Homo sapiens: one gene and its partners. The protein of the gene in region 1 purifies or fractionates together with the protein of each later gene. This does not show direct contact. Each region holds a gene or a part of one and is shown in the gene's direction. Other genes may lie near its edges. The genes, in order: SYF2, AQR, RBM22 and WDR83.

Region 1 (7,932 bases):
GAGTGAGGAAACCTTTACAATGATTCCAGCCCCAGCCCCTAATCTGACTGCAACTGCATGAGAGACCCTGTGTGAGAACCACACCAATTCTCAGACCTATGAGAGATAATAATAAAATAATATTTGTGCTAAGGTACCAAGTTTTGGGATGATTTGTTATGCCACAATAGAGAAATGATACAGTTCATAACAGTTTTTTTTTTGTTTGTTTGTTTTATTTTGAGCCGGACTCTTGCTGTGTCGCCCAGGCTGGAGTGCAGTGGCGCCATCTGAGCTCACTGCAACCTCCGCCTTCTGGATTCAAGTGATTCTCCTGCCTCACCCTCCCGAGTAGCTGGGACTACAGGCGCACGCAGTCACGCCTGGCTAATTTTTTGTATTTTTAGTAGAGACGGGGTTTCACTGTGTTGACCAGGCTGGTGTGAAACTCCTGAGCTCAGGCAAATCACCCACCTCGGCCTCCCAAAGTGCTGGGATTACAGGCGTGAGCCACTGTAGCCAGCCCAGTTTTTAAAAATCACACAAATTATCATATTGCACAGAAAAGCAATGTTGAAAATCCTGTGAATACTCTTAATAAATCCTTACAAAATCAGTTGAGCAATTTTTACCACACATCTTTCCTTTCTATACTGCTTATCACTTCCAGAAACTTTAGTTAATTACAAACATTTCCATTTTTTTAAGTCCAGACTTGCAGATTTTAATTTGCAATATAAACAAATTGGTAATATAGAGCCCAATTTTACTGGCAGGAATAGGATTTTTTTTTTTTTTTTTCAAGACAGGGTCTCGCTCTGTCACCCAGGCTGAAGTGCAGTGGTGTGATCAGGGCTCACTGCAGCCTTGACCTCCCAGGCTCAAGCAATCCTCTCACCTCAGCCTCTCGAGTAGCTGGGACTACGGGGGCAGGCTACCATGCGTAGAGATGAGGTCTCGCTATGTTGCCAGGGCTGGTCTTGGACTCCTGCGCTCAAAGGATTCTCCTGCCTTGGCCTCCCAAAGTGCTGGGATTACAGGCTTGAGCCACCGTGCCAGCCAGGATTCTTAATAACAGTAAAATAAGAAGGATGTAAGCACTACTCTTCCCCAATAACTGAAATCCAAGAGGCACAAAACCACATGTAATTGTGTGGTTTTTTTTTTTTTTTTTTTGAGACGGAATCTGTGTCTCCCAGGAGTGCAGTGGCACAATCTGGGCTCACTGCAAGCTCCGCCTCCCGGGTTCACGCCATTCTCCTGCCTCAGCCTCCTGAGTAGCTGGGACTACAGGCGCCCGCCACCATGCCCAGCTAATTTTTTAGTAGAGACGAGGTTTCACCATGTTAGCCAGGATAGTCTTGATCTCCTGACCTCGTGATCCACCCGCCTTGGCCTCCCAAAGTGCTGGGATTACAGGTGTGAACCACCGCGCCCAGCCGCGATTCTATTTTTTATTCAGAAATACTGTTGACTATTCTTAGTTTTTCCATGCAAACTTTTAAATTTTTTTTAATTTTAGAATTGACACACTTATTTTTTATTTATTTTTTGAGACGGAGTTTCACTCTTGTTGCCCAGGCTGGAGTGCAATGGCGTGATCTCGGCTTACTGCAACCTCCACCTCCCCGGTTCAAGCAATTCTCCTGCCTCAGCCTCCAGAGTAGCTGGAATTACAGGTGCCCGCCACCACGCCAGGCTAAATTTTTTTATTTTTTTATTTTTTGTAGAGACGGGGTTTTGCCATGTTGACCAGGCTGGCCTCGAACTCCTGACCTCAGGTGATCTGCCTGCCTCGGCCTTACAAAGTGCTGGGATTACATGTGTGAGCCAAGGCGCCCGGCCGAAATACTTACATGGTTCAGAAGTACATATATCTTATTACACCCCCAAAACAGATGATGGCTTTTTTTTTTTGAGATGGAGTCTCCCTTTGTTGCCCAGGCTGGAGTGCAGTGGAGCGATCTTGGCTCACTGCAACCTCTGCCTCCCAGGTTCTAGCAGTTCTCCCACCTCAGCCTCCTTAGTAGCTGGGAATACAGCTGCGCACCACCATGCCCGGCTAATTTTTGTATTTTTAGTAGAGACGGGGTTTCACCGTGTAGGCCAGGCTGGTCTTGAATTCCTGACCTCAGGTGATCCGCCTGCCTCTCTCTGTCCTTTGTCCACAAGGACATTCCCTGTGAGGAAGGTAGGTAGCTTTTTTATCTTAGTGGCTTTTTCAGGTATAGAATGGGAGATAGGTTTGCCCTAAGCAGTTCCCAGCTTGACTTTTCCCTTTGGCTTAGTGATTTTGGGGCCCCAAGATTTATTTTCCTTTCAATGTGTAATTGTATCTGTAACATAAATTCCCAGAATTATGATAGCTGAGTCAAAGAGTAAATGCCTTAATTTTTACAGATATTGCCAAATTGTCTTCCCTAGGGGTTCAATCAATTTTTAGTCCTACCAGCAATATGTGTAGGATTCATTTTTCTTCGGTCTCATCAACACAATGTGTTATTGAACTTCTAAGATTTTTGCCACATTATTTTCCAGTTCCAAAAAACAAAAACAATGACCCACTGAGGTTCTGATGGGAATAACATGACATTTATAAACTCATTTGCGATACTCCTTTGTGATATTGTTTTTATAATATTAAGTCTTCCAACCAGAAAATAGGTTATCCACCATTTATTCAGATTTAATTTACTTCAAATTATCTTTTATTTTTATGTTACCATTTAAATTTTGTACCTAGGTATCTTTTCATTTTAGGGATTACTTTTCTTTTTTTTTTTGGTTTTTTGAGACAGAGTCTCGCTCTGTTGCCCAGGCTGGAGTGCAGTGGCGCAATCTCGGCTCACTGCAAGCTCTGCCTGCCGGATTCCCGCCATTCTCCTGCCTCAGCCTCCTGAGTAGCTGGGACTACAGGCGCTCGCCACCACGCCCGGCTAATTTTTTGTATTTTTAGTAGAGATGGGGTTTCACCGTGTTAGCCAGGATGGTCTTGATCTCCTGACCTCGTGATCTGCCCGCCTCGGCCTCCCAAAGTACTGAGATTACAGGCATGAGCCACTGCACCTGGCCTACTTTTTCATTTCTGTATCTAACTAGTAGTTGTTAGTGCAGAAAAAAATAATTTTCATATATTCCTCTTATATCCAGCACCTTACTTATCTTAGTAACTTTAGCACTGTTAGTAATTCTGGCATTGCCTCTCTGCTGAGCATGTAAGAGTAAACAAGATGGGTGGACTCTGCTGTTCTCCAGTAATAACGCTGATGAGAAAAATAGAAAATCAACAGACAAAAATAAAACTTATGCAATTGGAGAGAATTAAAATAGTGTCAAATGACAGTACTAAAAGTGAGACAGGGTAGTCAGGGAAGACCTGCTTCTATTTTTAAAAATTTATTTTTATGGCCAGGCACAGTGGCTCATGCCTGTAATCCCGGCACTTTGGGAGGCTGAGGTGGGCAGATCATGAGGTCAGGAGTTCGAGACCAGCCTGGCCAACATGGTGAAACCCTATCTCTACTAAAAATACAAAAATTAGCTGGGCATGGTGGCAGGCACCCGTAATCCCAGCTACTCGGGAAGCTGAGGCAGGAGAATCGTCTGAACCCGGGAGCCGGACGTTGCAGTAAGCCGAGATCGGTGCCACTGCACTCCAGCCTGGGTGATAGTGCAAGACTCTGTCTCAAAACAAAAAAACAAAAAAAAATTACTTTTATTTTTTAATTTAGAGACTGATTCTTACTTTGTTGTCCAGGCTGGTCTTGAACTCCTGGGCTCAAGCAATCCTCCCGCCTCCGCCCCGCAATGTGCTGGGATTGCAGCCATGAACCACCACACCAGGCCAAGGGCAAGACCTGCTTCTTGGAGAAAGTGACAACACCTTAAGCTCTAAATGGAAAGAACTTTCCACTCATGGGAATGAATGGCACTGCAGGTTTTTCCTGCTTACTGCAGACAAAACCAATTCACTGAAAAGTGCTACTGCAGTATACAGTTGTATTAACCTGAGGCTGGCCTCAGGGAAGAAGGGTTACCACTCAAGTAAGTTTTCCTGAAGGGTCAGCTCAGAGGTTAGGGTATTTCATAGTTTGGTGTGGGCAGGGCACTAGGGAATGGATGCTGCTGATTGGTTGGAGATGCAATCACAGGGGTGTGGACTACACTCCTCAACAGCTGAGTCCGCCTCTTGGGGGAGGAGTGGGACAGAAGAAGCGGTTGGGTCATGGGTCACGAGTCTGGGTGGGGTCAGTTAGTTGCCAGAATGCGAAAGTCTGAAAAATGCCTCAAAAGACCAATCTTAGGTGCTACGATAACGTTATCTACAGGAATAATTGGGGAAGTTACACATCCGATGTCCTCCGAAACAATGGCTGGTTATCGTTTACTACATTTTAGCAGAATTCTCCCCTCATAATCCTAACCTCCCGGTCTTTCATTAGTTTTATAAAGGCAGTTTCAGCCCCCAAACAAGGAGGGGCCCTGTTTAAGGAAGGGACTATGATCATCCTTGCTTAAAAGTTAAACTATAAATTCTCCCATGGTTAGCTTGGTTTATGCCCAGGAATGAGCGAAGACAGCCGGCCTGCGAGGCTAGAAGCAAGATGGAGTGAGCCATGTTAGATTTCTCTCACTGTCTTTGCAAAGGCGGTTTCCAGGAACAGCGTGCAGAATAGGGGGCTATCAGGCTCCTTTTGGTCATTTCTTCCTAGCCGTCCGATTCTGAGCTCTTCCCAACCCTTTTCTTGGCGACTTACCTCCCGCTGTCCTGGCCCACGCTACTTTTCGCGGCTGCGCAAGACCCTACGCAATCCAAAATATTTCATAGCTAAAAGGGTCCCAACTTCCGGAGACCTCCCGGAAGGGGCGGGGCTTATGGTAGCCCATTCGTACGTATCGGCCCGTTTGTCTGAAGGTTGACGGAAGTGCTCTATCTTGTTGCCGGAAGTGGGAAGAGAGAAAGGTTGTGATGGCGGCTATAGCTGCATCCGAGGTGAGTTCCACCCACCGTACACCGGGGGTTTTGTTGGTGAGGGTTCCGGGGAGCGGCCTGGAGAGAGGTGGAGGCGAAGTCTAGTTTCGCTTCAGGGAGGCTCAGACACTGTGGGGTCAAGTCGGCGGTGGAGGCCCTAGGCCCAGCCTGTGGGGACCGGCGGGGACTCGGCCTGGGCAGTCCTGGGAGAAGCTGAGCCGGCTCTGCCTGAAGCCAGTTCTCCTTGTCGCAGGTGCTGGTGGACAGCGCGGAGGAGGGGTCCCTCGCTGCGGCGGCGGAGCTGGCCGCTCAGAAGCGCGAACAGAGACTGCGCAAATTCCGGGAGCTGCACCTGATGCGGGTGAGTAGTCTTGGAGGCCGGCTTAGATCCGTCATCTGGCCAAGCCTGTGCGCTTTTGTAGAGGGGACGAGGAAGCCACACCACTGCGTCTGACAGACCAACAGAGCAGGATCATCTGAGAGGAAAGCTCTGTTCGGTGGTACTCAACCCTGGCAGCACATTGGGATCATTCTGAGAACATTTGAAAATATAACTGTTCACTCCAGCCCCTCTCCCACCCACATCCAATTTAATGTATCTGGGTTAGGTTTGGGAGTCTCCATTACTAACAACCTCCCTGCTCCGTGATTCCAACAAATTCTTCATTTTACCTAGGGAAATATGTAGAGCTAGAGACAGGAAGAAACTTGTCTAGTGTCAGTAAGAGACCTGGTTCACTTTAAAAAATAATAATCTTCTGTCAGAATCTGTTTGAGTGAAAAGAAAATAATCATCTGTTTTTGGGACTTCTGGGGGAAAAGAATAAAAAGAAAATAAAAAAAATGGCAAACTTTTGAAAGTCTACAGTGTGGTAGTTCAGCCAGTTGATAGGGAATCTGATGTTTAAGTGCCCTGGAGGTGCAGAGGAGGAGAGAGGAATGCAGTTTGTGGGTCTCCAGGGGGTGCCTCATGTAGTAGGTGACACCTAAACTACTGTTTGAAAGCCAGACAACTAAAGGAGTTAGAGAAAGAGATATCCAAGCAAAGGGAACAAATTCAAAGAAAGAGAATTTGTATTAGGGATAAGAGTCCAGCAAATAGCTTGCTGCAGTTGGAGCAGAGAAAGAGAAAAGCAGCCCCTGTTTCACCATGGAGTGACCTGACAGCTAGGCCATGGTTTCACAAAATCCCAAAATCACTCTGACTGTTGTAGTGAGACAAAACAAAGAAGACTTTTCAAATTACAAGAATGACCACATATTTCTTTCTTCTGACTAACACCAGTGACTGTTATTAACAAATACAGCATTAGTCTCACTCCGTTACTTCTGCCTCCTATATAAAAATGTAAGATACTGGGCCGGGTGCGGTGGCTCACGCCTGTAATCCCAGCACTTTGGGAGGCCGAGGAGGGCGGATCACAAGGTCAGGAGATCAAGACCATCCTGGCTAACACGGTGAAACCCCGTCTCTACTAAAAATAGAAAAAATTAGCCGGGCGTGCTGGCGGGCTACACGGGAGGCTGAGGCAGGAGAATGGCATGAGCCCGAGAGTCGGAGCTTACAGTGAGTCGAGATCACACCACTGCACTCCAGCCTGGGCGACAGAGCGAGACTCCATCTCAAAAAAAAAAAAAAAAAAAATCTAAGATACCTAATTGTAGAAAGCCCCTGCTTTCTGACAGTACCCAATCCACATCCTTAACCCTCCCCTCAGTCACCTGATACAAACCCAAATCCTGGAACAAGCCCTTCCTAACACCCTGTCACTCAAATGCCCACGGTTCCCCGTGGTTTGCTCTCTTCTGTGCAACAGACTCAACTTTGTTGACCGTAGGTATGTTCTTGGCGTCTTTAATTGCAGGGCTTTTCCAGGGCCAAGAATATACTAGGGATGGTAGTTGGGAGGAGTATCTCTCTTTGCCGAGGGAAAGTTAATCTAATAAACAATTAAAAAGACATGCTTAAATATTTAGAGTGATTGTGTAAGGAACACATGTCTGGAAATTAGGAGGCGGGGCTTCCTGGACAAACTGCCACCAGCTTATGACCTAAGGAATGTCTAACTCAAGTTTTCCTTAAGACGATACACTCATTTTGCTTTATGCAATTAAGTTTATTTAAAAATAGACTCTTCTCCCTGCTACCCCAGCTCCAAAAAAAAAAAAAGACTCTTCAATGATACTTCAAATGGAAAATTCCTTTCATTTTTCATTTGTCAATGCAAACTGTGAAAATATTTAAAAGGAGGGGAACTTGGAAAGCATTAGAGGCATTAAGATAGGTTTTAAATCCTCTAACCCAAATTGAGGCTTTTTTCTTGAATTAGGATTAAAAGATAATTGAGGCCTGGTGTGGTGGCACATGCCTGTAATCCCAGCACTTTGGGAGGTCCAGGCGGGCAGATCACTTGAGGCCAGGAGTTTGAGACCAGCCTGGCCAAACTGCAAAACCACGTTTCTACCAAAAATACAAAAAAATAAGCCAGGCATTGTGGCACACGCTTGTAACCCCAGCTACTCGGGAGGCTGAGGCATGAGAATTGTTTGAACCCCAGAGGCGAAAGTTGAAATGAGCTGAGATGGCTCCACTGTACTCCAGCTTGGGTGACAGAGTGAGACTCTGTCTCAAAAAAAAAAAAGAAAGAGTGTCTTTCACATCATGTGACGTAATTTTTTTTTTTTTTTTTGAGATGGAGTCTCGCTCTGTCACCCAGGCTGTAGTGCAGTAGTGCAATCTCAGCTGACTGCAACCTCTGCCTCCTGGGTTCAAGTGAATCTCCTGCCTCAGCCTCCCGAGTAGCTAGGATTACAGGTGTGCACCACCATGCCTCGCTAATTTTTGTATTTTTAGTAGAGACGGGGTTTCACCATGTTGGCCAGCCTGGTCTTGAACTTCTGACCTCAGGTGATCCACCTGCCTCAGCCTCCCAAAGTGCTAGGATTACAAGCGTGATCCACTGCACCTGGCCAATTTAATA
Region 2 (7,022 bases), on another chromosome or scaffold:
GCTTCGAGAAGTACTATTTAAAATTTCATAGTCTATTTCTGTAGTTTTGAAAAGATTTAGTAATTTTAATCAAGAAAATTACATTGTTGTGCAGTTTGGTGGGAAGATGAGCTGTTTCTTCATTTCTTTTGTTATAATTGTTTGTAGAATTATTTTTTTCATTTTCACTGAGTGCATTGCTTTTCTTTATGCCTAAGTTTTTGAGCTAAATTGTGCTATTTAAGAATTTTTTTACTGTAAAATATTCTTTACTATTGAAGCATTAAAAACAAAATGTGGAATTCCCAACTTAAGGATAGAGACCACTCTAATATGCAGATAAATTGAGTTCCAGAAGTTGTTTTTATAAGTGAAGCTACTTGGAACTTGGAATGTATTCTATCAGGATATGTTTCAAGGAACTAGGAGACATATAGAGTAGGAAATTGAAGTAGTAGTGTAGATAATTAAAGAAGGTAGTTTTTACTGCTTTGGTGGGTTCAGAATTGGTCCTCAGCTAATTGTGAAACATGTTTATTTCGCATCTTTCCATTTCTCTTCTTGGGCTTCTGTTTCTTTCTGTGTGCTCGTTACCTAATGCCTGACCTAATCCTTCCAGCCTTCTTTGGATTACCCTGCCTATTAAAGTAGGGTAATTCCATGCTTGCCTTCTAAATACCTCCATTCTCCCTCACCCACTGTCACCCAGGAGCAATAACGTCCATAATTGGTTCACAAATTGTTCTGTAAATTTGCTAGACTCCTGTTTGTGGAGCTGGTAAAGTTTGGTAATTTGTAAGATAAGGAAGCTGTTTGATGAAGACTGAGTCTCTCGGGTAATAAATTGGAGACAAGAGGATAATAGAGTATTTTGCCATTTCCTTACTTTTCATTTCTAGAATCCTCAGGATGGATTTAGCCGACTAAAACGATGGATTATGATTGGCGATCATCACCAGTTACCTCCAGTTATTAAGAACATGGCCTTTCAAAAGTACTCAAACATGGAGCAGTCTCTCTTCACTCGCTTTGTTCGCGTTGGAGTTCCGACTGTTGACCTTGATGCTCAAGGGAGAGCCAGAGCAAGGTAAAAGAGACAGGAAAAAAAATCATTCCCATTTAAGGACATTTGTTCCATGATCCAAGTATTTGTGAATAGCTTTTGTGTAGACTATTAGCATTCTTGGCTATCCAGGAACTTGGCTATCCATAAATCCAAAAGCACTTTTGTCGACTTCTGCAAGAGATGTGAATGGACCAAATAATTTATTTCCTTCATTTCATTCATTAATATTAATTTAAGTAACTTATAATCTAAAGGCTTCTTTTCATTGTCCCTTCTCCTTTCTTCATGTCCCCAAAAGATATACAGTTAATATAATTTTAAAATCTAAAAATAAAGTGAACAAGAGGAGAACACACCAATTCTTACTTCATAAAGGATGCAGGCCCCATCTCATAGTTACCCCCAAATGTCCTCAATTTTTAGTCTTCCTTGATTTTTTAATTTAAGGGATAAAGATAGCATTGACCTCAGAGAGCGTAATAGAACTCTCATTTTTGTAGTACCTTCAGTCTTCTGACCCTTGGTTACTTGAAGTAGGGAAGCTAAGGTTGAAAGAGCATTATTGCTTAAAAGATGAGCCAAAATGGCTAACATGAAAATTTAAAAGAAGCACAGAAACAGAAACCTCCTTATGTATATTAAAAGAGATTTTACACTGCTAATATTTTCTGTTTGTGGGGGAATTTGTCTTTGGAAAGCTTGTGCAACCTCTACAACTGGCGATACAAGAATCTAGGAAACTTACCCCATGTGCAGCTCTTGCCAGAGTTTAGTACAGCAAATGCTGGCTTACTGTATGACTTCCAGCTCATTAATGTTGAAGATTTTCAAGGAGTGGGAGAATCTGAACCTAATCCTTACTTCTATCAGGTAAGAAAAAATAGGAAGCTTATAAGTTTATTTTGCATTTGCTGGCTGACATATGCCTAAATCAGTGATACTTAACCATTTGGCCGTTGAGAAAAGGAAAGTTGGAACCCCACCTTACACATAGCATATGAAAAATCGATTTCAGATTGATTAAAAATACATGCACTAAAGAAACTAAACAAACTAGAAACTACTAGAAGAAAATATTAATGAATATACAGTGTTGGAGTGAGAAAGGTCTTCCTAAGCTTGTTACAAAAGCAGAAATCATAAAGAAAAATAGCGATTGGAGAAAAGATTTATTTTCAGTATTTAAAATTTATTTCAATATTTAACAAACAAGTTGAATTCTGAATATATTTATAGAACTCATAAATTGTTTTAAAAAATCAAGACTAACAGGAAAATATGAATATGCAATTCATATTTTATAACAAGTATAAATCACTGAATTACATTTTCACTTCTATAACAATGCTCAGTGTTGGGATAGGTTTGGGGAAACTTTATTCTCATACAATGCTAGTAGGAAAATAATTTGGTGGACAAATTGTCAGCATGTATGAAAAGCAATGTTCTCACATCTAGGAATTTATCCTAAAAAAATAATTGGGCAAGTTTGGAAAGACTTGTATGCTTCATGTTCATCACTGCAAATTATTCTGGAAATGAGAAACAACCCAAATATCTGTCAGTAGGGATTAATTGCATTATTACATATTCCATATAAAAGAAATACTAGATAGCCACTAAGAATGATAACATTGTATTTACTAACAGGAAGAATGTTTATGCTATATTAAGTGGAAAAAAGTTGCAAAGTATATCTACAGTATCTCATTTTAAAAAGGAGCTGCAATACATACATATAGAAATACATACAGATAATCTATACAAAATGACCTGGCAGCATATACATCAAAATATAGTCTTTGGTTGGTAGCATTTGGGGTTATTTTAATTTTTTTCTTTTTTTCTCTCTCTCTTTACAGCAAAATATCCAATATAGGTTGTTATACAAATTAGAGATCTTGAGTTATTCATGAAAAAGCATCATTTATCATCAGCTTAAATGTGTATGCATAGATGTAACTCATGCAGATCTTATTGTCCCTCCAAATATTTGGTTATATTAAATCAAGTTACTCTATTTGTGTACTTAATGCCTGAGAACAGATGTGACCTTTAAATGATAACTTTAAAAATATTAGAACCTAGTTCAAATCAGTGATGTTTCCTAATAGCCACCTTAGAAATTAATTATTCTATCAGTAATCAACTGATGTTTTCATTACATATTGGTTTTTTGGAATTTCTTCTTTGAGTCAGTTTCATTGCCTGAGTCATACTGTAGTATTGATTGAAACATTTTTATCCAGATTGGTTACCTGTTTTTCTTATTCATTAAGCCTAACTCTAGATGAGTTTTTAGCGATTCAAGAAATAAATATATTTTCAGATGATGATTTGCCACTATTAAATATATTTCTGGAGAGTTGAAAACACTGTCCCCCAAAATAAGAATACTATGCATTTAAGTGATAACATTTGAAGAATTAGTGTCGAGAGGGAAAGACTAGGTGGATAAATGAATAAAAGTCACTAATTTGAAGGGGACTTGACTCATTTGGAGCGAGTTCTAAAATGTTTGGTCACAATACAGTTCATGTTGTTTTATTGTTAATGCTTCATGTCTAACCTTTGGGCAAAGTACCAAATTGGGCAGTGTTAAAGAACTAGAAAACTTAAATGAACTTGTAACTCAAGCTGTGCGTCACAAAGAACCAGAATATAAATGATATTTTTAGAAGTCTTCCAGTAATCTTTCGGTTGCCTTTGCATGAAATCCAGCTTCCTTTTTTTTTTTTTTTAAATATTGTGTTTATATTCTTATTTTACTTTCTTCTTTCATCTAGTACTTTGGATTTAGTCTCTACTGAACTGGACCAAAGAGCTTTGTGTGTGGTTCCTCACCTTTAAGTTGAATAAGCCTTAGTTTTAAGCTCCTTTCTAGTCTGTAATTTAACAGTAAACCAGACTGACCAATTTGCGGTCACATCCTCATCCCACCTAAAGTGATCTAGTAGAAGTGACAACCATTACGCAGAGAACAGAAACAAAGCATACAAAAAACATTAAGAAACATGAGGAAGGAGGAAAAGCACTGTGCAAAAATTGAGTCAATTATAATACTGCTAGGTGTATTTGCTATTAAACTGGGTATTGTATTGGCTTCTTAGTTACTTTGTTCCTTTATAGTTTTGTGTCTGTGTAACTACAGTTGTGGCACATTGTATAGAATTTTTTTTTTTTTTTTTTTTGGAGATGAGATCTCACTTTGTCACCAGGCTGGAGTGCAGAGGCACGATTGAAGCTCGCCACAACCTCTGCCTCCCAAGCTTAAGCGATCCCCCCACCTCAGTCTCCAGAGTAGCTGAGACTATAGGCATGCACCACCATGCCCAGCTAATTTTTGTATTTTTAGTAGAGACAGGGTTTCACCATGTTGTCCAGGCTGGTCTCAAACTCCTGGACTCAAGTGATCTGTCTGCCTTGGCCTCCCCAAGTGCTGGGATTACAGATGTGAGCTACCATGCCTGGCCAGAATAGTATTAATCTATATTGTGATTGTTATGGTCTTAGGAATATTAAGCCTTTAAGTTGGTAAGTTTTATTTTAGGATTGTTCCATGTATTGCAAATTAAAAGTTTGTATTTATCACTGTTAATGTAGCATAAAATTATCCCTCAGTTTTATGAAAGGTACTCACTTATCCAAGTTACTAAGTCTTCACTTCTTGCAGTGTGCAAAGTGAACAAGTTTTGCTTATCTAGATGAGATATTTTCTCTATAAAATTGAAACAAAAGCAAATGAATGCACAGTCTGATTATGTTTGCATTACAGAATCTTGGAGAGGCAGAATATGTAGTAGCACTTTTTATGTACATGTGTTTACTTGGTTACCCTGCTGACAAAATCAGTATTCTAACAACATATAATGGCCAAAAGCATCTTATTCGCGACATCATCAATAGACGATGTGGAAACAATCCATTGATTGGAAGACCAAACAAGGTACTTTTATAATTATAATATGTTCTCTTATTCATCATTTTGGCAAGATGGAAAGGTTTATATTGTTCTGCTTTGCCTCTTTGCTATCTCTTTTTAAGATATTTGAGAAAATGAAATAATGGGAACTATAAATAACTCTCTGACAGTCTTGCTGGTTTGATGTGACTTTCTATCTCAGCTACCACATAAAAGATATTTATTGATGGTAAAAGAAATGTTTCTGAAACTTTTTGTTCATAAAATGATATATAACAAAATTACATTATAATATGTGTACTGTTACAAGGAGTATGTTTTGCTTTGCAGGGGTATAATTTAGACTGCTTTTTATTGTGTATAGGGGGAGGTTGTCTTGGGAATAAGGGAAGATTGTAAAATGTATTCAGACCTTGGGATTTTAAAAATATATATATTTTTTATGTAATCAAAAATGCATAATATCAAATAAAATGATGATTCTTTCATTAATGAAGGGTAGAATACATTAGAAAAAACATAAAGATAATACTAATGATAAAATTAGGACTTTGGCTATGAACATGGCTATGTAAAAGCTCACCTTTTTTGGAAATTATGCAAATGTAACAGGAAAATGAGAAAAAGAGGGGACAAACTATTTTTATAGACTATCTGTGCAGTAGCAGAAGAAAAGAGGGCCTTTTGTTATGAAAACCGTCCAGCCTTCAGAAAACAGCCTTGCTCACCCCATCTTCATGTCTCCCACATAGCTAATCTAAGAAACTTACTTATTCAGTGATGAATAGTATAAAGGGAACTAGCACAAGCTCAATTTATAGGAAAAAATGAAGAACAGCAAAACATAGATAGGATACATGCTCCAGAAACCATGTTGGCCTGGAAAAGATGAAATTTTCAAATATACATTTTGCTGTAAATTGGGAAATACTTAATGAAGTAACCATATCTTTGAGGAAAAGCTACAAAGCAGAGAAATGTAAGAACTCAGAAAGAGATGAAATGTAAGCTGGAAGAAAATAAAATCAGAGGAATGAAAACAAAATCAAAAGGAATACAGGGAAGAATAGACACTGCACAGAATACTTCATAAGGAATAGAGTGAAACTGAGAAACTAATAATTTTGCAAGTTTAGAAATAGAAGGACCTCAATATTTGAGTCCTTTTACAGAAAATCTTACTCAAATAATAAGGAAAGTTACTTTCTCTCATAACAAGATGGAAATAGGGTGGTTCCAAGGTTGGGTTACAGGGTAGCTCAACGATGTTATTCTGCCCTGCTAATGTCAGCATGTGAGCCCAGTTCTCCACATGGTCAGAGTGGCAACAGAATTCCCAGGTATAATATCCACACATAACAACAAAGGACGTATATCCAGAATATATGAACTCCTATAAAAGTTATTACTAAATAAGGCAGACCAATACAAAATGGGCAAATGACTTGAACAGACACTTCACATAAGGAAGACCTACAGGTAGCCAATACGTCATGAAAAAGTGCTTACCATCATTAGTTGTCAAGGAAATAGAAATTAAAGCTACAATGATATACCACTACCTACCCAAAAGAATGGGTAAAATGATGAAGATTGACATTATGACAAATGTTGGCAAGGATGTACAACAACTGAAACTCTAGAACTGGGGTTCTAGAGTTTACACATTGCTGGGGAATGTGTAAAGTGGGATAACAATTTTGGAAAAGTTTGACAGTTTCTTATAAAGTATGCACTTACTGTACAGCTCAGCAATTTCACTCCTGCATATTTATTCAAGAGCAATGAAAACATGTCCACAAAAATATTTGTACATGAATATTTATTGCAGCTTTATGCAAGATAGCTTCAAACTAGAAACAGGCCAACTTTTCATGAAAAGGTGAGTGGACAAAACTGTGGTATATTTGTTCAGTGAAAGAATACTCAAAAAGGTATGAATTTCTCATGTACACATACATGAATATATCTCAGAAACATGCTGATTGAAAGAAACAGGACACAAAAGAATATATCCTTTTGATGCTATTTTTATGTAATTCTAGAACTGGCAAA
Region 3 (7,967 bases), on another chromosome or scaffold:
GCAACAAAAGCAAAACTCCATCTCAAAAACAAAAACAAAAAACAAAAAAAAAACCCAAGCCCCGCTTGATTCCTAACCAGATTGACCAAACCCCATGCAGACGGTCTAACAGAACACACTTGCCCATTTCCGAGCATTAATATGATTTACCTCATTCTCTTCTGTTATATAAGCAATGACTTGGCCGGGCACGGTGGCTCACGCCTGTAATCCCAGCACGTTGGGAGGCCAAAGCAGGCAGATCACTTGAAGCCAAGAGTTCAAGACCAGCCTGGCCAACATGGTGAAACCCCACCTCTACTTAAAGTACAAAAATTAGCCAGGTGTAGTGGTGCAGGCCTGTCGTCCCAGCTACTCAAACCCAGATGTTTGAACTAATGGACAGAGACTTTAACATGTTGTTGGGGCTCAGAAAATGATACCCCAAATTAAGGCTCTGAAGCAGCCTCAGAAGCAAAAGTTTCTCTCTGACCTTCTGCCTTCCTGTCTCTGGCCCTTCATTCTTCCCCAAGCCTAGCCACAGACACTGAATCCCTTTTCCTCAAGGTGGGTCATAGAGAGAACCCCTTTTCCCCAAAGCCAGCCATAAAATGTAAAATACTACTCTAGGCCGGGCGCGGTGGCTCACACCTGTAATCCCAGCACTTTGGGAGGCAGAGGCAGGTGGATCACAAAGTCAGGAGTTCGAGACCAGCCTGACCAACATGATGAAACCCTGTCTCTACTGAAAATACAAAAATTAGCCAGGCATGGTGGTGCGTGCCTGTAATCCCCGCTACTCAGGAGGCTGAGGCAGGAGAATTACTTGAACTTGGGAGGTGGAGGTTGCAGTGAGCCGAGATCGCACCATTGCACTCCAGCCTGGGCGACAGAGCAAGACTCTGTCTCAAAAAAAAAAAAAAAAAAAAAAACTACTCTAACTTCCGCCTTGCTTTTGTGTAAAAACTGGCTCTGAATAAATTATCTGAGCTACTTTGTTTTAGATTGTAGGTCATAAGACCCCCATTCCAAAGACGGTCCTGTACATACCCAGAAGGAAGGAATGCTGCCGAGAGAGGCCAAGAATCTAGACAGACAGGCCTCGCTGGGTTTCCCCACTCAGTCTATTAGCGCTAAATCAGTACGCTTTTTGTCCAATCCTATTTCTACATAGCTGTCCATACTTTGTTGAACCTAGGCATATAAATGGACAATTTCCCATCTGTGTCTTCATTCTGAAGGCTCCTATGTCAGGTAAAACTATGATCAAATAAATTTGTATGTCTTTTCTCCTATTAATCTGCCTTTTGCTAGTTAATTTTCAGTGAATCTTAAGAGGGCAAAGGGGAACTTTTCTGTTGGCCCCTACAATGTTAAAAAATCTGGTGGAAAACATGGAGCCAGGTGCCATGGCTCACACTTGTAATCCCAGCACTTTGGGAGGCCAAGGCTGGAGAATCACTTGAGCCCAGGAGTTCCGAGACCAGCTTGGGCAACATGGTGAGACCCTGTCTCTACAAAAAAGTTAAAAATTAGCTGGGCACCGTGGCCTGCTTCTATAGTCACAGCTACTTGGGAGGCTAAGGCTGGAGGATCCCTTGAACCCAAGAATTCCAGGTAACAGTGAGCTATGATCATGCCTGGGTGACAAAGTGAGACCCCCATCTCGAAAAAAAAGAAAAGGAAAATATGGATTATATATATTGTGAAAGGAAATTAAATCTTGGGACCCCAAACTCATTAAGCCAAAGGGAAAAGTCGAGCTGGGAACTGGGTCACACAAACCTGCCTCCTGCTTTTGGTTCCTAAATAAGATGGCTATAAGATGAAAAGCTACATGCCTCCCCCATATGTTGCCCAGTAATTCAGACCCTTCCATTAAACCAGCAAACCTTTTTCATTTACAATCTCATTGGACATGTTTGGTATTCCAGTGCTATGATCACTTAGCTTCAATCTTTGTACCACAGATAGGTATCGAAGATGTTATATGGCATATAGAGGCCATAACGAATTACACCCAAAGGCCCTAAATGGTAGCTGCATGAGTACCTCTTTGCTAAGCAATGAGGTCATGCTTATGAGGAAAGCTGTGTTGCAAAACTATGTGGCTTTAGATATACTCATGGCAGCACAAGGGGAACCTGTGCCACCGTAAAAACTGAATGTTGTGTGTATATTCCAGATGAATCAAAGAACATAAACTGAATTATGACCAGTATGAAAACCCAGATAAGCAACTGTCAGATCCAAAACCCTCACTAATCCATTGCTTGAGTGGTTGGTTTGGATCCTGGGGAATTTAGTGGCAGAAGCTATTGCTTATAATAGAAGGAATAATTTATGTTCTGTCCTGTTTCTGCTTACAATGTTGTTATAGTACGTGTTTGCAAATAAGTCAATATGCAACCGAAAGGGCTAAGGTAATGATTGCCCAGAGAATTGCTTTAATTGAGGAGGCAGTAATATAATAAAGCTTGACCCAGCTTCCAGGTTTGCTTTCCTTTTGTTGCTATAAATCTGGCCTAGTCCCTATATATATTTTTTCATCTCTTTTCTTTTTTCCTTTCTAGGAAAGTAAAATTCCTCACTAGGAATTTCCTTGTGGGCAAAATATGGGGGAGGCATGTAGCTTTCCATCTTGTAGCCATCTTATTTAGGAACCAAAAGCGGGAGGCAGGTTTGTGTGACCCACTTCCCAGCTTGACTTTTCCCTTTGGCTTAATGAGTCTGGGGTCCCAAGATTTAATTTCCTTTCACATTTCCCCCTTTTTTTCTTTAACATCTTTTGGAGAAAGCATTTTAAAAGGAATATGTGTTCCTGGCCTCAGTTCGCTTTTTCCTCCTTTTTTGAGCTGGTTTCTTGTCGCTAGGATGGTTTATTCCAGGAAATTCAGGTCTCACGTTACTAGGAAGGCTCATTCCTAGGAAGTCATGTTCCATGTTGCTAGGAAGGCTCATTCCTAGAAGTCATGTCCCACAAAGATTAAAAAATAAATTGGGGGAGGAAAGAGGGAAAAAGGAAGGAAAGGAGATGATTCTGAGGGCTCCAGACTTAAAGGAGAAAAGGGTCCTATCTCTTTTCTCTTAATGTTAAATGTTATTTTGTTTGTGGAATGTTCACTCTATAATATATATGTTGATTAAGTATACCATTATGCATGATTTGCAATATTGATTGACCTGTGGAGTGCCTTGAGCCTGTGTGTCCAAGACTCTGAGTGCTGAGTGAGTGGGAAGTACTAAGGAGAATTGCTTTCTTGGAAACTCCATGTAGTTCGTGGCTTTTGTGATTGAAATAGCATCAGTAAAAGTCTGGCATTGTGGAAAAACACAAATGTACGTGGACTCTGTTATTTCTGACCTTGCACTCCTCACAAGGCATGTGAAATTGGAGTCACAGATGTAGAAACCAGGCAGAAGACAGTCTGAAGAGATGATACTTGAGAATTTTCCAAATATAATAAAAGACAACAAATCACAGATCCAAGAAGCTCAGATAAACCCAAGGACTTTCTTATAAAGGAAAAGATATACTTACCATATGATCAAATAATCTCACTCTAAGGCATTTACACAAGCAAAATGAAAACCAATGTCCATACAACGATCTGTATGTGAATGTTTATAATGGTTTTATTTATATTCACTAAAATCTGGGAACAACCCAAATATCCAGCAACTGGCAAGTGAATTGTATGATATATCCATACAATGGAATTCTACTCAGTAATACAAAGGAAGAAATTATTGATACATGTAATAATATGGATGAATCTCAACTACAAAATACTAAGTGAAAAAATATCAGATCCAAAAGGATATATAGGATTCCACTTATGTGACATTCTGGAAAAGGCAAAACTAGGGACAGAACACAAATTAGTGATTGCCATGGTTTGAGTATGGGATAAGTGGACTAACTACAGAAACAAGGGAACTTTGGGGATGACAGACAATTCCATATTTGACTGTAAGTGAATGTATGTACAAAATTCAAAACTAAAAAGGATAAAACTTTATGTAAATTATACTTTAAATCAACTTTTTTTTTTAATGAGGTGATTTAAATAAATGTGTTAGGTAGCTTGATGACACGGTAAGTATGAAAGTGGTACCAGAATGGCTTGAAACTCATAAAATATTGGCAGAGTGGTTATGAGTTATTCCAAAAATCAAATAATGCATATGTTGATTCGTAAGACCCTTGTCATTTCAGAAGCTGGAAATGAAACAGTACTAATGAATTTGTGGCTTCACCACTTTTTAGCTCCACAACCAGGAGCTATATCAGGAGAGATTAGGTTAATCTCTCTAAACCTGTTTTCTTTTCTATAAAAGAGGGATCATCATACTTGCCTACAGGGTAGAGTTACCAGATAAAATACAGGACGATTGGTTAAGTGATGTGAATTTCAGGTCAACCACGAATCCTACTTTAGGACGAGTAGGTACCATATATATTTATAATTAAAAAGCGATTCGCCGTTAATCTGAAATTCAACTTTAGACGTTCTGTAATTCGTGCGTGTGTGTGTGTGCATGTGTGTGTGTGAGTGACAGAGAGAGAGAGAGAGAGAGAGAGAGAGAGAGAGAGACAGAATCAGAATCTGGCAGCCCTACAGAGAGCCCTACAGAGAGGTTATGCGAATAAATAAGACACTGGAACCGCAAGACGTTCGCCCAGAGTTTGGCATAATAAGCGCCTCAGTGGTAGCGAACGCTATTTTAACCCCAGCCTCTGATGCATTACGTCTTCCTTTATTCTTTCGCCCAATTGTTAAATGAATCAACTGTACGTGTGGCCCTTCATTCCAAGCAGGCAAAAACTCGAAGGAAGCATCCAGGTGCATTATACCAGGACCCCAATTGTTAAGCTTAGAAATTCCAAGAGCGGGCGACGTCATGACGCAAAGGCCCCGCCCCGGAAGAAGCCCTAGACGCGTAAATAAGACGCCGACCGGCGCGGCGCTAGCCTCGGGGCTTGACGGGATTGTGGCGGTCCTCTCTCCCAATTCGGAAGCTACAGCTACCTCCGGACGCTCTCAAGATGGCGACCTCTCTGGGTTCCAACACCTACAACAGGCAGAACTGGGAGGATGCGGTGAGTGTGCCTGCCGGAGGAGGATGGAAGGAGGAGGCGAAGCCGCGCACCTTGCAAGCTGGCAGGACAGGGCCTGCGGCGCGGCCGAAGGAATACCGGGGAGGAGCCAGCGCGGCGGCCTAGCTTGGCCGGAGCAGGAGGGCGGAGGGCGATCCTCCTGCGGGCTTGAAGGGAGGGGGCTTAGCCAGGGTCCCGGGACCAGCACCCTTTCCATCCCTGCCCCCTCCAGCCTATTAGAGCTGGTTTTCTTTTCTCCCGCCGCCTGCCGGAAGTGCAGACAGCGCCCCCTCCCGCGATCGGGTCGTGATGGACTTCGGGTTCCTGCCGTGCCTAGTTCCCCACCCTCGCTTCCCGCCCCCTCGCCACCCCAAGTGTCACTGAGGTGTCAGGGTCTTCGGAGGGTGGTCCTCAACCAGATTTCCCATTTTCACCAGGACTTCCCCATTCTGTGCCAGACATGTCTTGGAGAAAACCCATATATCCGAATGGTGAGTGATCGCGTGTGAAACGAGTTATTCATGTCCTGTCGATGTTGTGGTACTTGCACACTGTGAAGTGTTTCTCTTAGACAAGCAGAAAAAATGATGCTCTTTTACTAACGCGAAGTGCTGGACGACTTGCAAAGAACTGTCATGTGTATTCTCTTACGAATCCGGTAACACTCCTGTAATGTAGGGGTAATAACGATAGCTAGTATTTGTTGAGCATTTACCTAGGAAATAGGTCTGTTGACCAGAAGGTGAGAGCGTTTGTGTCTTTTCATACAATAGTAAGGAATGGAGCTGGGATTTAAGTTCACATATTCTGGCTCTAGGAATGTCAGCATGATAGGAGGAGAACCAGAACTAGAAACTAGGTTTCCTGAATCCTGGTCAAATGCCTTTTGGCCAGTGTACTTTATCTCTTTAAAGTAAGCATTCCCCCTTTGTTACAAACTAGGGTAAAATTAGAACCAGTTAACAATAATAAGGTTAGGGCTGTATTATTGTGTAGTCGTAGAGGTGTTGATATGTTAGTATGTTCACGATGTTTGAATGGTTCAAGATGTTTGAATAGTTCTGTTTAAACAGAACATTTACTATATTCCGGGCATTGGCACAGGACAAGTCTACAGTAGCTACCTTTTGACTAAACTTTGTAAAGTGGGCGGGCCACAGCTGTATCCTCTCTGATTTAGGGATTGTGGAAAGCATTAGGAATGTTAGTTCTTGGGAGTGAACTTGGGAGCCAAAAATGAACCTAAGAGTTGTGGCTGTGGAAAGACACTCACTTACCTAGCATTAGATGCATATACTCTATTTCTTTTTTCTGTAGAGACAGCATCTCGCTATGTTGCCCAGGCTAGTCTGGAACTCCTGGGCTCAAGCAATCCTTCCACCTTGGCCTCTCAAAGTGTTGGGATTACAGGCGTGAGCCACTGCCACCCAGCCCAGATCCATATACTCTTGAGATGTTATCACTTATAATATGTTGTTATAGTATGTTCCCTACCCTCTTCCCAAAAAAGGTTGGGTTTTGGGTTTTGTTGTTGCTGTTTTTCTCTCTCTAGGATGCCAGGGATTTCCAGACACATTTCTTGGGTTATGTTTAAGGAAAGAGTAGACATCTGGCTTTTTTCTTTCTGTAACTCCAGTTCTTTTCTATTTTTTTTCTATTATAGACCAAAGAAAAGTATGGGAAGGAATGCAAAGTAAGTATGTCTGTTAAAGAGTAATGATTTCTGTTTCATTTTTCTTTTCTCTACCAAATTAGCCTTCAGCTTACTAAGTTTTGAGGTCTTCCAGTAAAAATCAGTGCTATACAACTTTTTATGTATTACTGATATATTCATTGGCTGGCAACTGTTTATGTGGGAGGTAAGAAAATGAACCCTCTAATGTAGAGATTCTTACGGTGTCAGTGGATGGGCACTGGAGGAGTTTGTACACCAGGTGGTGTATGACTGTCCACTCGAGCATTTTAGCTGAGGAGGAAGGTCATTCTTGTCAGAAGCTTCTCAAAAAATTACATGACACTCCCCACTCCCCCTAAAAAAGATTAAGGTTCAGATTATTATTGGTGCTTAGCTCTAGGATGGGAAGAACTTTGACCCTTTGGCTATTTCATTTCTGTACTCTGAATTTTTGCTGGAGAAGGATGCTGAAAATTGTATTGAAACATCAAATCAACTAGATGATTGCTAAGGTCTCTTCTAAATCCTACATTCAGGGATCCTTTTTTGAATGCCCCGTTGTTATCAGATCTCCAGATTGCCCAGATCAGGACCATTGACATTCTATGGCTCTTGCTTTGTGTTCCAGATCTGTGCCAGGCCATTCACAGTGTTTCGCTGGTGCCCTGGAGTCCGCATGCGTTTCAAGAAGACTGAAGTGTGCCAAACCTGCAGTAAATTGAAGAATGTCTGTCAGACCTGCCTCTTAGACCTAGAGTATGGTATGTTTGACCTGTCCAATAAATCTGAAAGTGTGCAGGTGCCTAAAACTACAAGTCAGTCTTTTGTCTCCCACTTCGCACCCTAGCTCTGGTTCTGATTTCACTTTGGAATGTCTGCCGTGGTCTGCTTTTCCCAGGAAAAGAACCATAATTAGGCCACTCTAGAGTCCTGAACAATAGTAGGAACTTAAGGAAAAGTTGGGAATTAATCAAAAGTGGCCTAAACCTTCATCTCTGTAGCCCAAGTGAGGTAAAAGGCGTTGATCCTATGATAGATAATTTATTTGCCTTAGGCTTCTTTCTTGATCCAGAGCTTTTTTCCACCATCCCAATCAGAAGCTCACAGGGTAATTGTGCTTTATTTTATTTTATTTTTTGAGTTAGGGTCTCACTCTGACACCCAGGCTAGAGTACAGTGGTGTGATCACAGCTCACTGCAACTTCGAACTCC
Region 4 (6,548 bases), on another chromosome or scaffold:
CCCTGAGCCAAAGCCGCGGCCTCCAGAGCTGCCGCAGAAACGGTTGAAGACGCTGGACTGCGGGCAGGGGGCAGTGCGAGCCGTACGATTTAATGGTGAGCGCCTTCGTCTTCATTCCGGGTCCTCCTCCCGCCTCCTGAGATCGACGGCCCAGTAACCCCCGCCTGGTGTTCCCCAGTGGATGGCAATTACTGCCTGACGTGCGGCAGTGACAAGACGCTGAAGCTGTGGAACCCGCTTCGGGGGACGCTGCTGCGGACGTACAGCGGCCACGGCTACGAGGTGCTGGATGCGGCCGGGTGAGCCGGGGACCAGGCTGGGATGGGAGCGCTGAGGCTGGGATCCGAGGTCGATGCTGATCCTCCTCCTCCTTTACTCCAGCTCCTTTGACAACAGTAGTCTCTGCTCCGGCGGCGGGGACAAGGCGGTGGTTCTGTGGGATGTGGCATCAGGGCAGGTCGTGCGCAAATTCCGGGGCCACGCAGGGGTGAGTGAAAGCCTGGAGACCCTCATTTGAGTGGAGGGGACCCGTATTAGCGCATAGGTGGTGACACGGCCACCCCCATTACACCGTAAGGATCCCTTCCCCAGATGACGATCCCCCACTCCGCATGCCAGGCTAGGCAGTCACCAACCCCTGTCCTTGCTGTTCCCCCAAAACCTTTCACCTCCCCTTCGCCCTTGCTTTAACCGACACTGGGAACCCTGCCTTTATCCCAGTCCTCCAAAGTCCAGCCTCCTCTGAGTGGCAATAACTTTCTCAGAAGGTGAACACGGTGCAGTTTAATGAAGAGGCCACAGTTATCCTGTCCGGTGAGTCTGGGGCCTAAGCACGGGGGCCCAGGGTGCTGCCCTCCCCCTCCAAACCTGACCTCACCATCATGCTGGCCTCACAGGCTCTATTGATTCCAGTATCCGCTGTTGGGATTGCCGCTCACGGAGGCCTGAGCCAGTGCAGACGCTGGATGAGGCCAGAGATGGCGTGTCCAGTGTGAAGGTGTCAGACCACGAGATCCTGGCAGGGTGAGTGGAGCCAGGACCTGGTCTCACCCCAGGTGCTACGGGGAATCATAGCTGCCCCCATGCTCAGATTAAAACCTACTCTCAGCTGGGCACAGTGGCACACAGCTGTAATCCCAGCTACTTGGGAGGCTGAAGTGGAAGGATCACTTGAGTCCAAGAGTTCGAGGCACCATTGCACTCCATGCTGGGTGAAAGACAGACTGTCTACAAAATAATAATAATCTGGCCGGGCACGGTGGCTCACACCTGTAATCCCAGCACTTTGGGAGGCCAAGGTGGGCAGATCACTTGAGGTCAGGAGGTTGAGATCAGCCTGGCCAACATGGTGAAACCCCGTCTCTACTAAAAATGCAAAAATTAGCCAGGTGTGGTGACGGGAGCCTGTAATCCCAGCCACTCGGGAGGCGGAGGCAGGAGAATCGCCTGAACCCGGGAGTTGGAGGTTGCAGTGAGCCGAGATTGTGCCACTGCACTCCAGCCTGGGCGACAAAGTGAGACTCCATCTCAAAAAAAAAAAGATAAAATGATTTCTAAAAATAAATAAAAATAGGCCGGGCGCTGTGGCTCATGCCTGTAATCCCAGCACTTTGGGAGGCAGAGGCAGGCGGATCATGAGGTCAGGAGATCGAGATCATTCTGGCTAACACGGTGAAACCCCGTCTCTACTAAAAATACAAAAAATTAGCCGGGCATAGTGGCAGGCGCCTGTAGTCCCAGCTACTCAGGAGGCTGAGGCAGGAGAATGGAGTGAACCCAGGAGGCAGAGCTTGCTGTGAGCCGACATCGCACCACTACACTCCTGGGCGATAGAGCAAGACTCCGTCTCAAAATAAGTAAATAAATTAAATAAATAAATACATAAAAATAATCATAAGGAAGAATTTTTGTTTTTTTTGAGACGCAGTCTCGCTCTGTTGCCAGGCTGGAGTGCAGTGACGTGATCTCGGCTCACTGCAACCTCTAACTTCTAGGTTCAGGCGATTCTCCTGCCTCAGCCTCCCTAGTAGCTGGGACTACAGTCGCGTGCCACCACGCCCAGCTAATTTTTGTATTTTTAGTAGAGACGGGGTTTCGCCATGTTGGCCAGGAGGGTCTCCATCTCTTGACCTCGTGATCCACCTGCCCTGGCCTCCCAAAGAGCTGGAATCACAGGCGTGAGCCACCGCGCCTGGTGGAAAAAATATATTTTCTATTCATTAAGTGGAAGTGAAGAGATCGTCATAAAGATCTTCGTGTTGAGAAAGCAGAGGAGGAGGAAGAGGAGGGATTGATCTTGGTGTCTCACAGCTGATAGAGGCAGAAGAAAATCCACATATAAGTGGACGCGTTCAGTTCAAACCGTGTTGTTCATGGGTCAACTGTACTTTGAAAAGTGCTCCCTCTGGTGGCTGTGGGGGGTGCAGGGAGACCAGAACAGTCTAGATGCTGGTGCTGGGTAGTGGGGAAAGTGGTGGGACTGAGTACTGAGGAGGAGGAGCTGGAGAATGCAGGAAAAGGGGGAATTGGGCCAGGTGGGGTGGCTCACACCTGTAATCCCAGCACTTTGGGAGGCTGAGGTGGGCGGATCACCTGAGGTTGGGAGTTCGAGACCAGCCTGACCAACATGGAGAAACCCCGTCTCTACTAAAAATACAAAATTAGCAGGGCGTGGTGGTGCATGCCTGTATTCCCATCTACTCGGGAGGCTGAGGAAGGAGAATCTCTTGAACCCGGGAGGCAGAGGTTCCGGTGAGCCAAGATCATGCCATTGCACTCCAGCCTGAGCAACAAGAGCAAAACTCTGTCTCAAACAAAAGGAAGAAAAGGGGGAATCAGAAGGACTCCAAGGGCTTGGAAAGGGGGTGTGGGTCTTGGAAATGATGGAGTAGGACGTAATTGGCCCTGGGCCTGAGTCTCAAGGCCAGAGCTTCAGAATTCCACTCCTGTGCACTGGAAGAGCAGGCCCACTGGGCTGGGAAGGCACAGGGCTGCCTGGAGCCATGTGAGTGTAGTCAAGGTTCCCGCTGGATCTACCCTCTCCTGCAGCTCCGTGGATGGCCGCGTGAGACGCTATGACCTAAGGATGGGGCAGCTCTTCTCAGACTACGTGGGCAGTGAGTGTGGCTGGGGATGTGGGACAGGCAGGGAAGATGGGGGGCCAACCAGGGGCACCCCACCCTCACTCACCTACCCACCCTTCCCCCAAGGCCCCATCACCTGCACCTGCTTCAGCCGGGATGGGCAGTGCACCCTGGTGTCCAGCCTGGACTCCACATTGCGGCTCCTGGACAAAGACACAGGGGAGCTGCTGGGCGAGTGAGTCCTTGTGGTCGTGGGGATCCCCTTCCCTCCTCTCCCACCCCTGGAGAGGACCAAGCCCCCCGATCCTGTCCACCCTTAGGTACAAGGGCCATAAGAACCAGGAATACAAGCTGGACTGCTGCCTGAGCGAGCGTGACACACATGTGGTCAGCTGTTCTGAGGACGGGAAGGTGTTCTTCTGGGACCTGGTGGAGGTGAGGTGCCCCCAGCCCTACTTCATACCTAGATGCCTGCCCCATCTCAGCCCTGTCCTTACCTCAGTCACTCCAGGGCCTGAAGGCTAGGATCTTTTTTTTTTTTTTTTTTTTTTTTTTGAGACAAGTCTTGCTCTGTCGCCCAGGCTAGAGTGCAGTGGCGCAATCTTGGCTCACTGTAAACTCCGCCTCCCAAGTTCAAGCGATTCTCCTGCCTCAGTCTCCTGAGTAGTTGGGATTATAGGTGCGTGCCACCACACCCAGCTAATTTTTGTATTTTTAGTAGAGACAGGGTTTCACTATGTTGGTCAGGCTGGTCTTAAACTCCTGACCTCATGATCCACCCACCTCAGCCTTCCCAAGTGCTAGGATTACAGGCGTAAGCCACCACACCCGGCCCTTTTTTCTTTTTTTGAGACTATTGCCCAGGCAAATGCAGTGGCGCCATCTCAGCTCACTGCAACCTCTTCCCCCCAGGGTTCAGGTGATTCTCATGTCTCAGCCTCCTGAGTAGCTGGGATTACAGGCCCCTACCACCATACCTGGCTAATTTTTGTATTTTTAGTAGAGACAGGGTTTCACCATGTTGGCCAGGCTGGTCTCAAACTCCTGACCTCAAGTGATTCACCCGCCTCGGCCTCCCAAAGTGCTGGGATTACAGGCCTGAGACACCGTGCCCAGCTTGGGCTAGAGAGAAGATGAGGCAGGAAGGGCATTCCAGGCAAAGGGAACAGCATATGTTAAGAGGTGTAGCCTGCGCATGCATCAGTCAGGAAACAAAGGCTTCAGGGTGGCGGCAGGTGCGGCAAGATCCGGGGTCAGGCTGGGCTGCAGATGCCAGGCCGAGCAACTGGCACTGACCCCTGGGCAAGGGGGAGCCGACGGCCATGTCTAACCTTGGGTGAGATAGGGCTGCAGTCATTCAAGAAACTGGAGCTACATCTTAGCATCCCTGTGCATGGTTTCAAGCCCTGAGCCCTGTCCTTGACATGTCCCAGCCTGGTGGGGAGTCAGGCCAGAAACAGACCATCCTGGTGTAGTGGGGTCAGAGCCGGGGGAATCTCGGCAAAGGAGACATCAGCGCTGGGCTTGGCCAGGGGAACTAAGGCCCATAAGAGGATGGAGGGAACCGGGGGGGCCCTGAAGACTTGGCGGACAAGCTCTTGCTTTAGGAACTAAGGTAGCAAGAATGTTCCACCTATTTCTTATGGGCCCAGTAGAACAGAAGTTGCCTTGGAGGGCAGGCACATCAAGGGACATTTTCAAGGTGGAAAGAGGAAGCATGGCTTGCTTGAGGAACTGTTTACATTGTGTTGGGACCAGGGGAAGTGGGGATCATTGGGGCTGCCAAATGGACAGGATGGAGCCCAGCTGGTGGCAGGGAACAGGCAAGCTGTGAGCAAGGCATGCTCCAAACATGGTAGTGGCAGAAAATCAGCAGTCTCTGGACATGGTCTAGAAGCAGAGCCAAGAGGAATAACTGATAGAGGAACATGTGGTACAAGAAAAAGACTCCCGGCCAGGCATGGTGGTTCACACCTGTAATCCCAGCACTTTGGGAGGCCGAGGGGGGTGGATCACGAGGTCAGGAGATAGAGATCATCCTGGCCAACATGGTGAAACCCCATCTGTACTAAAAATACAAAAATTAGCTGGGCATGGTAGCGCGTGCCTGTAATCCCACCTACTCGGGAGGCTGAGGCAGGAGAATCGCTTGAACTAGGGAGTCGGAGGTTGCAGTGAGCCCAGATGGCGCCACTGCACTCCAGCCTGGCGACAGAGCAAGACTCCATCTCAAAAAAAAACAGAAAAAGAAAAAGACTCCCAAAGCCAGGCATGGTGGCTCACACCTGTAGTCCTAGCACTTTGGGAGGCCAAGGCAGGAGGATCACTTGAGGCCAGGAGTTCGAGACCAGCCTGGGCAACATGGTAAGACCCCATCTCTGCTATTTTAAAAAATAAAAAATCAATAAGAGGCTCCCAAGACTTGCGGCCTGAACACCTGGTAGGACAGAGCTACTGAGGGGCTCAGTCTGAGGTAGATTAATTTTGCAGTGTCTAGGAGGCAATTAGAGGCAGGTGGCTGAAGGTCGGGGAGAGGTGACTGAGGGCTTCAGGCAGGACTGAGATGGGGGGTGCCCAGGGACCTCAGAAACCAGGGTACAGCCCAGCCACAGATAACCACTCCCTACCCCTCGCTCCACAGGGTGCGCTGGCTCTGGCCCTGCCTGTGGGTTCCGGTGTGGTGCAGTCGCTGGCCTACCACCCAACAGAGCCCTGCCTGCTGACCGCCATGGGAGGCAGCGTCCAGTGCTGGCGAGAGGAGGCCTATGAGGCAGAGGATGGAGCAGGCTGAAGCCAGGGGACCCACCAACAGGACCAAGGACCGAGACACAGACATGGAAGGACTTCAGATACCATCTTATTCTAGAGACGTAGCTGACCAAAAAGTAGGGGAGGGGCTGGGTCTGCAAATTAATAAATAGAAGAGGGGGTAAGACCTTCCTGGGACCGCAGCCGCTCAGTCCTCGTTCTTCTCATGCATGAAGGCATCCATCTTCTGGGCAAAGGTTTCAGCCACAAGCAGGGGGAAGACCAGGGAGGCGTCAGCATAGACCTGGGTAGGGGGGAACCTGGGTAAGCCATGGGACCCACACTCATCGTCCCAGAGACCCTATGCCCCACCCAGCCAGCGCTTACCTTGACGGGCTGTGCATCCACCCGGATCTTGCCCCAGGAGACAGCCTCGTCTGGTCGGGCACCTGAGTCAGAGCCATCAAACTCCTGGGCTGTGTTGATGTAAACAGCGTAGTCGGCCCCGTTCCGCTGTGGGGAGGCGGGGGCACGGTGGGCCCAGTCAGCCAGTCACAGGAGACAGACACAGAGGGAGGACACCGTAGCCAAACAGGCTGAGAGGTGTGTCCCAGATGAAGGAAGCCCTTCACAGACATTCGCTCCCAGACAGGGCCCATGTCAATGTCTGGGGTCACTAGAGCTGCTGGGCAACGATGGCTGTGTTTCCCCAGACCC

The links.
Region 2: the proteins of SYF2 (region 1) and AQR purify together in Homo sapiens (co-immunoprecipitation; 3 studies listed by BioGRID and IntAct, with this or other methods). This does not show direct contact.
Region 3: the proteins of SYF2 (region 1) and RBM22 purify together in Homo sapiens (co-immunoprecipitation; 3 studies listed by BioGRID and IntAct, with this or other methods). This does not show direct contact.
Region 4: the proteins of SYF2 (region 1) and WDR83 purify together in Homo sapiens (affinity purification with mass spectrometry; 3 studies listed by BioGRID and IntAct, with this or other methods). This does not show direct contact.

Annotation. Positions count from the first base shown.
Region 1 is NC_000001.11:25,229,484-25,237,415, reverse strand, and holds the start of SYF2 (pre-mRNA-splicing factor SYF2), read left to right. Parts: upstream 1-4,913; 5' UTR 4,914-4,948; coding exon 4,949-4,972; intron 4,973-5,204; coding exon 5,205-5,312; intron 5,313-7,932. UniProt on the Homo sapiens protein: Involved in pre-mRNA splicing as component of the spliceosome.
Region 2 is NC_000015.10:34,868,721-34,875,742, reverse strand, and holds part of AQR (RNA helicase aquarius), read left to right. Parts: intron 1-878; coding exon 879-1,066; intron 1,067-1,743; coding exon 1,744-1,915; intron 1,916-4,820; coding exon 4,821-4,991; intron 4,992-7,022.
Region 3 is NC_000005.10:150,698,048-150,706,014, reverse strand, and holds the start of RBM22 (pre-mRNA-splicing factor RBM22), read left to right. Parts: upstream 1-4,952; 5' UTR 4,953-5,029; coding exon 5,030-5,083; intron 5,084-5,517; coding exon 5,518-5,571; intron 5,572-6,743; coding exon 6,744-6,773; intron 6,774-7,383; coding exon 7,384-7,516; intron 7,517-7,967. UniProt on the Homo sapiens protein: Required for pre-mRNA splicing as component of the activated spliceosome. Involved in the first step of pre-mRNA splicing.
Region 4 is NC_000019.10:12,669,799-12,676,346, forward strand, and holds the end of WDR83 (WD repeat domain-containing protein 83), read left to right. Parts: coding exon 1-95; intron 96-178; coding exon 179-299; intron 300-381; coding exon 382-487; intron 488-764; coding exon 765-813; intron 814-896; coding exon 897-1,023; intron 1,024-2,671; exon of another isoform or gene 2,672-2,782; intron 2,783-3,048; coding exon 3,049-3,116; intron 3,117-3,209; coding exon 3,210-3,318; intron 3,319-3,403; coding exon 3,404-3,518; intron 3,519-5,724; coding exon 5,725-5,874; 3' UTR 5,875-5,993; downstream 5,994-6,548. Other genes in the region: DHPS (deoxyhypusine synthase), read right to left, coding at 6,040-6,135, 6,219-6,344. UniProt on the Homo sapiens protein: Molecular scaffold protein for various multimeric protein complexes. Acts as a module in the assembly of a multicomponent scaffold for the ERK pathway, linking ERK responses to specific agonists.